Linked DNA regions of Homo sapiens: region 2 is linked to region 1. The links come from fine-mapping of genetic effects on gene expression. A gene starts in region 1. The other region holds a variant in brackets. All regions are shown on one strand. Distances are from middle to middle. Region 1 holds the start of RAPGEF1 (Rap guanine nucleotide exchange factor 1). Region 2 overlaps RAPGEF1 (Rap guanine nucleotide exchange factor 1).

What was found. PIP is the estimated chance that this variant, and not a neighbour inherited with it, causes the effect. A credible set is the group of variants that fine-mapping cannot tell apart.
Region 2: its variant is the best candidate, but not a certain one, in a credible set for the expression of RAPGEF1 in sun-exposed skin (GTEx, PIP 0.64).

What each region holds. Positions count from the first base shown.
Region 1 is chr9:131,737,750-131,743,117 of GRCh38, forward strand. RAPGEF1 (Rap guanine nucleotide exchange factor 1) reads right to left here and starts at 2,327. Exons shown (of 27, transcript NM_001377935.1): 1 at 2,021-2,327. The coding sequence starts at 2,081. RefSeq lists silencers at 1,711-2,040, 2,091-2,140, 2,291-2,550.
Region 2 is chr9:131,618,572-131,623,939 of GRCh38, forward strand. RAPGEF1 (Rap guanine nucleotide exchange factor 1) reads right to left here. Exons shown (of 27, transcript NM_001377935.1): 11 at 3,225-3,427; 12 at 480-635. Among named protein-coding and RNA genes, the nearest start is that of PRRT1B, 76 kb to the left of the region's middle. RefSeq lists enhancers at 21-987, 2,881-2,950. The variant C/T (reference allele first, on the strand shown) is at 2,011.

The DNA.
Region 1 (5,368 bases):
GTCAGGAGATCGAGACCATATTGGCTAACACGGTGAAACCCTGTCTCTACTAAAAATACAAAAAAATTTGCCAGGCGTGGTGGCAGGCGCCTGCAGTCCCAGCTACTCGGGAGGCTGAGGCAGGAGAATGGCGTGAACCCAGGAGGAGGCGGAGCTTGCAGTGAGCCGAGATCGCACCACTGCACTCCAGCCTGGGCAACAGAGCAAGACTCCGTCTCAAAAAAAAAAAAAAAAATTTTTTTTAAAGTAGCAATGAGGTCTCGCCATTTTGCCCAGGCTTGTTTCAAACTCCTGGGCTCAAGTGATCCTCCTGCCTTGGCCTTCCAAAATGCAGGGATTACAGGCGTGAGCCACTGTACCTGGCTGACAGATGATTTCCAATCCGGTTCATTTTACTTTTCTGTGATTTCCAAGTTTTGACAATGAACATAGAATATTCTTATATTATAAAGATATAAAACATAATATAATCTTATATTAGATATAAAAAGATATAATATAATCTTATATATTATAAAGTTCTTATAAAAGAACTCAGTGAATGTTCTTTTTAAAATAAATTATCCAAGTTTCCCAACAGTACCGTTCTGACAAGACACTATACAAGAAGTTCCTGAGAAATGCTGCACAGATGAACCCAAGTTATTTCTGGAGCAGCAGGTGTACAGGATGGCGACTCATGGTCACTCGGCAAGGCTGTGGGGGCTCAAATTCAGTGAGAAAAATACTCAAGAAATGGCACCTGAACCCAAGCGCCCTGCCCCTGAGAAAAGCACCCTGGCTTCTGGTCAGAGGGCCAGGAATGAATATACTAGGGGCCTGCCGCCCTCTTGCTGTCTGGACAGCCGGAACTCACTGAACCTCTCTGAGCCTGTAAAACTGGGACCATATTCTTTCCCACAGACTAGCTTCAAAAATTTAAGAAGCAATGCATTTTAGGTGCTAAGAGTTAGATATATAGTAAACCCTCAATAAAGCCTACAAAAATGTCCTTCTGTGCTTCAACCACAGCCTGCAAAAGTCATATTGCCTTGTGGGTCCGCTGCAGGGGTGCACCCCACAGAAGTATCCCAGATTCAACCCAGGAAACATAAGCAACTTCCACAATCAAAGCCACAGACCTCCTTTGCAGCTCCCTAAAAATCTGCTTTCCCTCATTCAGCCGCCAAGCTAACCTGCTACCGGGGTTATGACCACAGGGCATGCTCCCAGTACAGGAGCCCAGGAGCACCCGCCCACTTCACCTTAGACCCAAGAATTCGCATTTGCCCTGCAAGGTGCTGCAGGCTAATAAAGCCTGGGGCCCCACAGGCTCGACAGTCATTGAATCTTTGGAGACTCTATTTCCAGGACAGGCAAACCCAGGGACTCGGAAGGTAACTCCCCCAGATTTCTAGGAACACACAAAGAGACGAGGTCTGCATCAAGATTTACCATCTACTCCAACCCACCGGTCCCCCACCTGCCCTCCTTGCAGAGCTGAGCTTGATCGGGGTGGGGAGGGGAAACTTGACTACCTCCTCAAAATACCCCCACTCATCCAGCCTGCTTCCTTTGAAGCAACCGAAGTGGACGCTTCTCGTTAAACTCGAAGCTCGTTAGAAATGACACATTTTACAGCTCAGCTGGGTTCACCCTCCTAGCGCCGAGCCCAGGCCGGGCACCGATCGCTGCAGCCGCAGCAGCACGCGGCCCGGGCTGTTCTTCCCCTGCTTGGGGCTCGAGCCATTTTCGGAAGTTCCCGGGGACCGCGGAGCGGCTAGCGCGCCCGGCCCCGGGTTGCAGGGGCCCCGCCCGGCCCGGCCCCTGGCGCCCCCGCAGCGGCCGCTTCCCCCCGCGCCCGGCAGGCAATGGGCCTGGAGGAGAAGCTGCCAGGCGCCCCGGCGAGGCCTCGGTGGCTTCACCCCGCCCCGGCGCACGGAGGGCCGCACATCCCGGGCGACCCGCGCTCGGCCCGGGGAGCGGCGGAGCCCCAGGGCCGGGCCCGGCCGGAGGGAGCCGCCCCACGCCCGCGCCTCACCTGCTTTCTCGATCTTGCCGGACATTTCCGGGCTGCGCCGGAGGCCGAGGCCGCCGCTCATCGGGCCCGGGCCGGGCCGCCGCGGGGCGACAGGGGCGGCGCGCCCGCCGCTCGCCTCGGCCCTGGCTCGCCACGCCTCAGACCCGCGCCGGCATGGCGGGCTCCGCGCGGCCGCGGCCCTGCGCTCGGCGACCGCGCTCCAGCCCGCCCGGGCCCAGCCGCTCCCGCCGCGCCCGCCGCCGCCGCTCCGCCTCCCGCGCGCCCGCCGCCGCTCCCCCGGCCCGCGAGCCGGCCGCAGCGCAGCGACGCCGCCCGCCCGCCCGCCGGGCCTCGGCCGCGGCCACGGCCACAGCGCCACCTGCCGGGCGCCCGCCGCGCCGCCACAGCGCCCCCTGTGGGCCCGGAGCCGCCCGAGCCTCCCGCGCGACGCGCGAGACGCAGCGCCCCCTGCCGAGCCGGAGTCCCCACGCCGGGGCCTGGGGCCTGGGGTGTGGGGCCGACCCCGCCTGGGACTCCGCATTCCTCTGCTGTGGGACCAGAGTCACCAGCTCCAGACCTGGGACTGACAGCTCCAACCCAGGGTCCTCGGTTGCCCAAGAGCCTGGCCTGCCCCCTCACCAGAGACACAGAGAACCCTCCTGGGTCAGATTTTCCACCCCAGGACGTGGAACTGACGCCCACCCCACCCTAGCATCATCCCGGACCCAGCATCCCCTGTGGGCCAGAGGCTCCACACCAGGGCCTAGAACTCACTCTCACCAGGACTCAACAAGCTCTGCTGGCTGGGAGCCTGTCCTGACCTCCCCCAAACCAGAGATGCAGCACCCCCTTTTTTGTTTTGTTTTTTGTTTTTGAGACCGAGTCTCACTTTGTCGCCAGGCTGGAGAGCAGTGGCGCGATCTCGACTCACTGCAACCTCTGCCTGCCGGGTTCAAGCAATTCTCCTGCCTCAGCCTCCTGAGTAGCTGGGATTACAGGCACATGCCACCATGCCCAGCTAATTTTTGTATTTTTAGTAGAAACGGGGTTTCGCCATGTTGGCCAGGCTGGTCTCGATCTTCTGACCTCATGATCCACCCACCTTGGCCTCCCAAAGTGCTGGGATTACAGGTGTGAACCACTGCACCCTGCCCGCACCCCCTTCTTAATTGGAGACCCCACACCAGGGCCTGGGAGTGGCCTCATAGCACCTCCTGCCAGCCCAGAGGCTCCAGCCGGGGAATGAGTCCACTCTGGCATGAAAGCCCTCTGCTGGCCCAAGGTCTATGCCAAGGCGGAGGATTCATTCTCCACCCCAGCCCTGCATGTGGGACTCAGTCACCCTGCCAGCGAGAGCCACCTGTCCCGGGCTGGGGTTGGCCCTACTCAGGCCTAAATGTCCCCTGAGGCCTAGAGCCTCCATGCTGGCCTGGGCCCAACTCCCTCAGGGACACAGCACACCCTGCCTGCCCTGCTTATTTGACATCCAGAAGGGCACCCTGGGGCTCAGCTGTGGAACTTTTCTAGTGTGGAAATGAGTTCATTAAAAGTCGTGGCTGGGCACGGTGGCTCACGCCTGTAATCCCAGCACTTTGGGAGGCCGAGGCAGGTGGATCACGAGGTCAAGAGATTGAGACCATCCTGGCCAACATGGTGAAACCCCATCTCTACTAAAAATACAAAAATTAGGTGGGCATGGTGGCACACGCCTGTAGTCCCAGCTACTTGGGAGGCTGAGGCAGGAGAATCTCTTGAACCCAGGACATGGAGGTTGCAGTGAACCGAGATCATGCCACTGTACTCCAGCCTGGTGGCTCCAGAGCGAGACTCCGTCTCAAAAAAAAAAAAAAAGTCGTGGTTGGGCACAGTGGCTCACGGCTGCAATCACAGCACTTTGGGAGGCTGAGGTGGGTGGATGACTTGAGCCCAGGGGTTCGAGACCAGCCTGGGCAATGTGTGAAACTCCGTCTCTACTAAAAATACAAAAATTAGCCAGGCACGGCGGCACCTGCCTGTAGTCCCAGTTACTTGAGAGGCTGATGAGGGAGAATCACTTGAGCCCTGGAGGCAGAGGTTTCAGGGAGTCATGATTGCACCACTGCACTCCAGCCTGAGTGACAGAGGAAGACCCTGGCTAAAAAAAAAAAAAAAAAAAAGGAAAAAAAAAGTCATTTAAGAATCAAAGGATCTGCTAAGTCTAAGCACTATTTCGGGTTCTGTGGGCCCTACAAAAGTGGGCACAATTGGTGCTTCCCTCCAAAGAGTTCACAACTTAGCTGGGAAGTCAAAGTTAAATCCTATAATACAAGTAGTAAATAACAACAAATTAGTAACGCAAGTGATGTTCCAATGTGGGGCAATTCTGCTGCCTGCTTCCTGTTGTTAGTCTAAGATGGAATACAAAGAAGTAGCACGCACCACCTGGGCTAGTTTTCCCTCCTGTTTCCCCCAAAATAAGTAAATTAAATAACCTAGTGATGGGGACAGGATTTGGGGGAGGTGCAGGGAGGAGGAAAAACTGCTAATGTTGTGAGAGATTCTTATTCCCATCTCCCTGGACAGTCTAAAGGGTCACCGATTCCACAACTAAGAGCTAGTCAGGCCGGGTGTGGTGGCTCACACCTGTAATCCCAGCACTTTGGGAGGCCGAGGTGGGTAGATCACCTGAGTTCAGGAGTTCGAGACCAGCCTGGCCAACATGGTGAAACCCCATCTCTACTAAAAATACAAAAAATAGCCGGGCGTGGTGGTGCGCGCTGGTAGTCCCAGCTACTCAGGAGGCTGAGGCACGAGAATCACTTGAACCTGGGAGGCAGAGGTTGCAGGGAGCCAAGATCGCGCCACTGCACTCCAGCCTGGGTGACAGAGCGAGACTCCCTCTTTAAAAAAAAAAAAAAGGAGATGGTCATAGATGGCAGCCAAATTTCCCATCATCATTTCATCAGTTGCAGCCCTCTAGAGGTCAAAGGCAAATCCAAAGATTGACAAATTCATTTCCCTCTTCCACCTGATGAATGGATGCTCTGATCCAGGGTGGCCCTGTTCAGCCCTCTTGGCAGATGCCTTACCAGGCAAAACTGGCCCCTGGTCCCAGGCCCAACCCCAAAACACACTCAATGCTGCCCCCAACCCTTCTAGGCTTCTGAGCTGAGAAGAGCCGATATTTTAAATCCAAAATCCTGGTTGAAAAGTAGAAAACTAGACTGCATGGATACTAGGTGCAGTCAGGGGTTTGTGAGAACACAAATATATTTAATAAATTATGACATATCCAATGACAAAAGATTTGCAAACAACAAAGTACTTTGCAAATGGACATTATGGTAAATCAGGGTCACAGAACTTACTTAATAAAGGCTATTCATCAAA
Region 2 (5,368 bases), 120 kb before region 1:
TCTCATCTATCTTATCTATTTATTTTGAGACAGGGTTTCACTATGTTGCCCAGGCTGGACTTGAACTCTGGAGTTCAGGTGATCCTCCTGTCTCAGCCTCCTGAGGAGTGGGGACTACAGGTGAGTGACACCACACCTGGCTATATTCCTTTTTAATCCTGGAACACAGAGGGCTGATCCAAGGTCCAAAGCGAGATTGGGATAAAAAGGCTAAAATGTCTCTGTCAGTTTATGCCAGACTGGTGATGCTCCCAAGGTGGCCACTCACATTTCCCATGCCTGCCCCTGCCTCACCTGGATGCCTCATGGTCTTTAAGGCCCCAGAGAACCAACCATTCATAGCCTTCCCATCTAGGTGTAGGGACCCGCAGAAGGGCAGGGGCCGCGACGGGCAGCAGAACACATGGCTGAGGCACACGCTTCCAAGGAACGGCCCTGTTCACGCGTTTCCAAGTAAAGAACAGCAGGGAGCAACTCACCGAGGGCACGGGCAAGCTGCCGTGCCGGCTGAGAAAGGAGTTAGAGACGGACACACTGAGGCCCTGAGCGGCACTGCCGTCCTCGGGGGTGAAGGCCACTTTAGTTTGCTGGACACAGTGGGAGACAGAGGAGAAGGAAGAAGCAGCACAGGAGGCCTGCTGGACAGAGGGGAGGAGAGAGAAGGCAGGGAAGGAGGGAGAGAAGCAGAGAACAGTCAGGTCCGTGCAGGGAAAGGCCGTGGAGGTTGCTCTCCACATCCTCTAACAGACGTTCTGGAGAGGGATGGCTTCTGGGCCCAGTTCAGGGACTAAAACCAGCTGCCGAAGGCCATCTGCATGAAAGGGCACCCTCCTTCATTTCCTTACACTAGATCCTAAAAATTGTGTCCACTGGAAGCAGGTTGGGTGGAAGGAGGACGAGGGGGCTGGAGCCACACAGAACTGGGCTGACTCTGGGCTTGGAGCTGCTCCTCTGTGGGGAGTGGATCCATGTGTCATTCACACGTCTTCAGAACTCAGACGGGGCTCCGGCAGCCTGGGTTTGAGTCTGGACCCTGCCATTTCTCACCCGTTTGGCCTTGGGCACTACTTAAAGGTCTCCGTGCCTCAGGTTTTCCATCTGTAAAATGGGGATAACCCTAGTGTCTCCTGTACAGGGCTGTTGGGAGGATGAAATGGGATGATACGTGTGAAGCACTTGAAATATTGCTTACCACACTGTACATGGGCCAACAGGTGTGTGTAATGAGCACCATTTTTGTCTGTGAAGTGTGGATAACGCTTCCTGCATCTGCATTTGAGAGAGGGTGTGACCAGCAGCTGGCAGGACCTGTCAGGTGGTATGCCTGGGCTGTCATTAGGATTGGGTGTGGCTCCCAGGTCTTCTGTTTCTAGCTGTGGGCTTGGATTAAGGTTCGCTGGCTCTGTCTGCCTCAATTTACTTATAATGGGGATGCCAGGAGCTGTGGCAGGGACCATGTAGAGCCAGATGAGAGCCCTGGTGCTTACCTGGGGAGGTGTTCAACACAGATGTTCCTAACAGGCCTCCGGGGGCTGAGCTCGCCACTGCCCTGCAGGCGTGGTAGAACAGGTTCTGATTCCACGTGCTCCCTAGGGGTGTCTCCCCAAATATTCAGAAGCCTGTGGACTCCACAGTATGGAGAAGATGCCCAAGGATGGCAAATGGGCCGAAAATATTTTCAATAAATCTGGCTCAGCAATGGCTTTTTTTTTTTTTTAGACAGGGTCTCACTATGTTGTCCAGGCTGGTCTTGAACTCCTGGGATCAAGTGATCCTCCACCTCAGCCTCCCAAGTAGCTGGGAATATAGGCATGTGCCACCACCACTCCTGGCTCTCGGCAACAGTTCTAACCAAACATTTTAGGCAAGGGGTCTCTAAATGAGGCATTTATGTTTCCATGGTGGGACCCTTTTTGAAACATCTTCAGAGCAATTGAGATTCACATTCTCAATTGTGTCTGTGGGACGGGCAGGGCAGGTGAGGATCTGAGACTCTGAAAATGGCACGTG[C/T]GACACGGCTAACAAGTGGCAGGACTGGAATTCAGGACTCCCAACTCCAAGCTTGGCCTTTCCTCTACTGGACATGGCCACCTCTGAAGTGGCTGAGTGTGGTTTTTGAGTGGAAACAAAACAGCTTGCTTGGTTAGCCACAGCCCACTGAGTATAGGAAGGCTCAGGAACTCCTGGGACTGGGCTGAGCCCCAGGTGATTGATTATACGGAGTAATCCAGGGACATTTGTCCTCCAGTCTGCAGCTGCCTCCCAGAAGAATCAGATGGCCCCTCATGTCCTCTCGCAATGGATAAAAGATGGCCCAGTGCACACCAGTCGCCTCCTGGTAGAAGCCACCAGACTGGCCAGCACACGAGAGCAGCAGCCCAGGCAGCTCTGAACAAGCCTGGAGCTCCCTGCTGGGGAGCTTCCTCTTCCTGGGGAGCATGGCTGGACAAGAGGCTCAGATCTTCAAACCTGACTAGGGCCCTCCATGTTCATTAACTGGCAGCAAAGGGAGAAAGTTTGGAGGGATGCCACAGGTACCCCCGATCTGCTCACCCTCCCAGTGCCTGGGCAGTTCCAGAGCCTCATGGGGTGCCCACGGTGGAACAGCTTGCCTTCTGTGCTGGCCCGTGCTTCCTTACATGCACAGGAGTCCTTAGCACACGAGTGTTTTCTAGAAGAGGAAGGTGCCATGTCTGAAACAGAGTGGCTCTGTTTAAAGCCATCCTCCACTTCAATGGCACTTGTTTTCCTTGGGCCCTCCCCGGCCAAGGCTGGGTTGTAAGTCACTCTACACAGTTAGGCCCATTATGCCAATCAAGTCCACAGATGGCTGTGCACAGACCATGTCCTGTGCTTTGATTGAGTCCCTCCTTTCTGGGAGGTCTATGTTGAAGCCAAAGAAGAAAGAAAAAAATACAAGAGACTGTCAGCAGAGAGAGCAAACACCCTGAGTACAAGCCTGTCCCTGCTGCGCGGGGCTGCTGTGGAAAAGAAAGGTCCCTGCACCCCAGGGTGGGGAGGTGGTGGAGTGGGCGCTGGGCTGCTGGTGAGCATCTAAGGAGGAAGTAAAAGCATCTGTGTGGGAGATGGTGCCTTCCACGCCCAAAACCAGGGCCCTGCCACAGCAGGGAGGAGGGTTAACCCTGCCCCCAAGGAGGGTCATTCTGGTTCCTAGAGACCTGCTAGGATCGGAAGTTCTAGTCACAAGGGAAGGTGTCACTCACCAGCTGCCGCTGCTTGGGGGGTAGGGCGGGCGGCGGGGCCAGCTCCTGCACGGAGTCCACCCCACTGAAGGAGTCGCTGAAGCCGTATACCTCCATGAGGAGCTTGTTCTTCTGCTGGTAGATGTGCTCGTTCTGTGGCGTCTGGTAGAACATAGAGGGCTGCGGCTCCGAGTAGTCCTCCAGCAACTGCATGTAGGCCAGCACTGTGAAACAAGGGAGAAAGCTGCAGCGAGGCCGGGGGAGGCCACATCAGGGAACCCCTCCCCCCATTCTTCCCACAGCAGCTAGGGGGCTTTCCACTGAAAGCACCTCAGAGAGGGACGAACAGACGGAGCACGGAGGACTTTTCGGGCAATGAAATCACACTCTGTCTGATGCGCTAACGGAGGAGACACGTCCAGACCGGCAGACGCGCAACACCAATGGGGAACCCTAATGTGAACTGGGGACTCAAGCGAGGGCACATGGCGGGTGCAGGGATGGCAAGTCTCAGCTACCTCCTGAGCAGGCACTTTCCCCTCGAGGCATGTCGCAAGTGCCACGAGCAGCTGCCAGGTGGAGCTGAGATTCAGATGCCAAGAAAAAGTGGTGGCTCTGCAGTGCTAAATTTTGTATCTTCAAATAAGCACAAAGCCAGAGGCTTCTCTGCAAACCCCAACTAGTCAACAAATCAAGGAAGGCCAGACACTGAGCTGAGGAAGACAGTCACAGAGGTAGGGAGTTTATTTCTTCCCTGAGCCACACTGGGGGTCCAGGTATAGAGGAAATGCTCTCTCTCCAGGAGTGTCACTGAAGGAAAGTGTTCAAAGTCACCTTCTTTATTTAAAAGAATATGTAAGAATTTCTTACTAGCTCCAACAAGCACCGAGCAGAACTTGGTTGTAAAAGATGCACAGGAAGAAATGGTTCCCCTCTGAGGTCAGCTGCTGCTACTGAAAGGGCAGCTCACAGCCCCTTGAGCTTGTCTCACACTTCCTTTTTTTTTTTTTGAGACAGAGTTTCGCTCTTGTTGCCCAGGCTGGAGTGTAGTGGTGCAATCTCGGCTCACTGCAACCTCCACCTCATGGGTTCAAGCGATCCTCCTGCCTCAGTCTACTGAGTAGCTGGGATTATAGGCATGCACCACCGTGTCCAGCTAATTTTTGTATTTTTAGTAGAGATGGGGTTTTGCCATGTTGGTCTGGCTGGTCTTGAACTCCTGAACTCAGGTAATCCACCTGGCTCGTCCTCCCAAAGTGCTGGGATTACAGGTGTGAGCCACCAAGCCCAGCCCCACACTTCCTCTTTAATGCTGCACAACCAATGTCACCAGGCTCCAGACGAAGAGGCAAGCCTAGGAAGGTGATCCCAAGCACCCACAAACTGCTCCCTAAAAAGACTAAATATGACCGGGCGCACTGGCTCATGCCTACAATCCCAGTGCTTTGGGAGGCTGAGGGAGGAGGGTCACTTGAGGCTAGTTCAACACCAGCCTGGGCAACATAGTGAGACCCCCGTCTCTAAAAAGAAAAAAGAAAAGAAAAAAATTAGCAATGGTGGTATGTGCCTATGGTCCCAGCTATTCAAGAGGCTGAGGTGGGGGGATCCCTTGAACCCAGGAGTTCAAGGTTGCAGTGAGCTATGGAAAAAAGAAAAAGATTAAACACAACCATCTCTGCCTGACTTTTCTGTAAAACTGTGATCTCTTCAGGAGGTCTTTCTGAACTCTTGATGTTGAAGTCCTTGTAGACACCTGCTAGCCAAGCACAGAACAGCAGTGATGCTCCCAGCCTTCTAGAAATGAGGAGGACCCAGTCCATTTCAAAAGCAGCCCAGAGGCTGATTTTAGAGGCCTTGCTCCTAACACAGCCAGCATTGCTGGGAAGGTTCAGCCGCCAGTGCTCAGGGCCTGGGACTGTGGGGATTTCAGGTGCCGGACAGTGATCACAAGGCTCGTCTGGCACAAGGGACTCATGGGGCTGCTCCGGGCAAGAGGGGCTGGGGACCCTCACGATGTCAGTGCATCCCAAATGATGAGGACACGTCGTGACATTGGGACTGAGCGTGCATGAACTCAGGCCAGCGTTAGCCACGCGGCCAGGGTGATGATTCTTTCCTTCTTTCCCTCAAAGCAATTTTGAGGCATTTTCCACAAGGTCACCTGA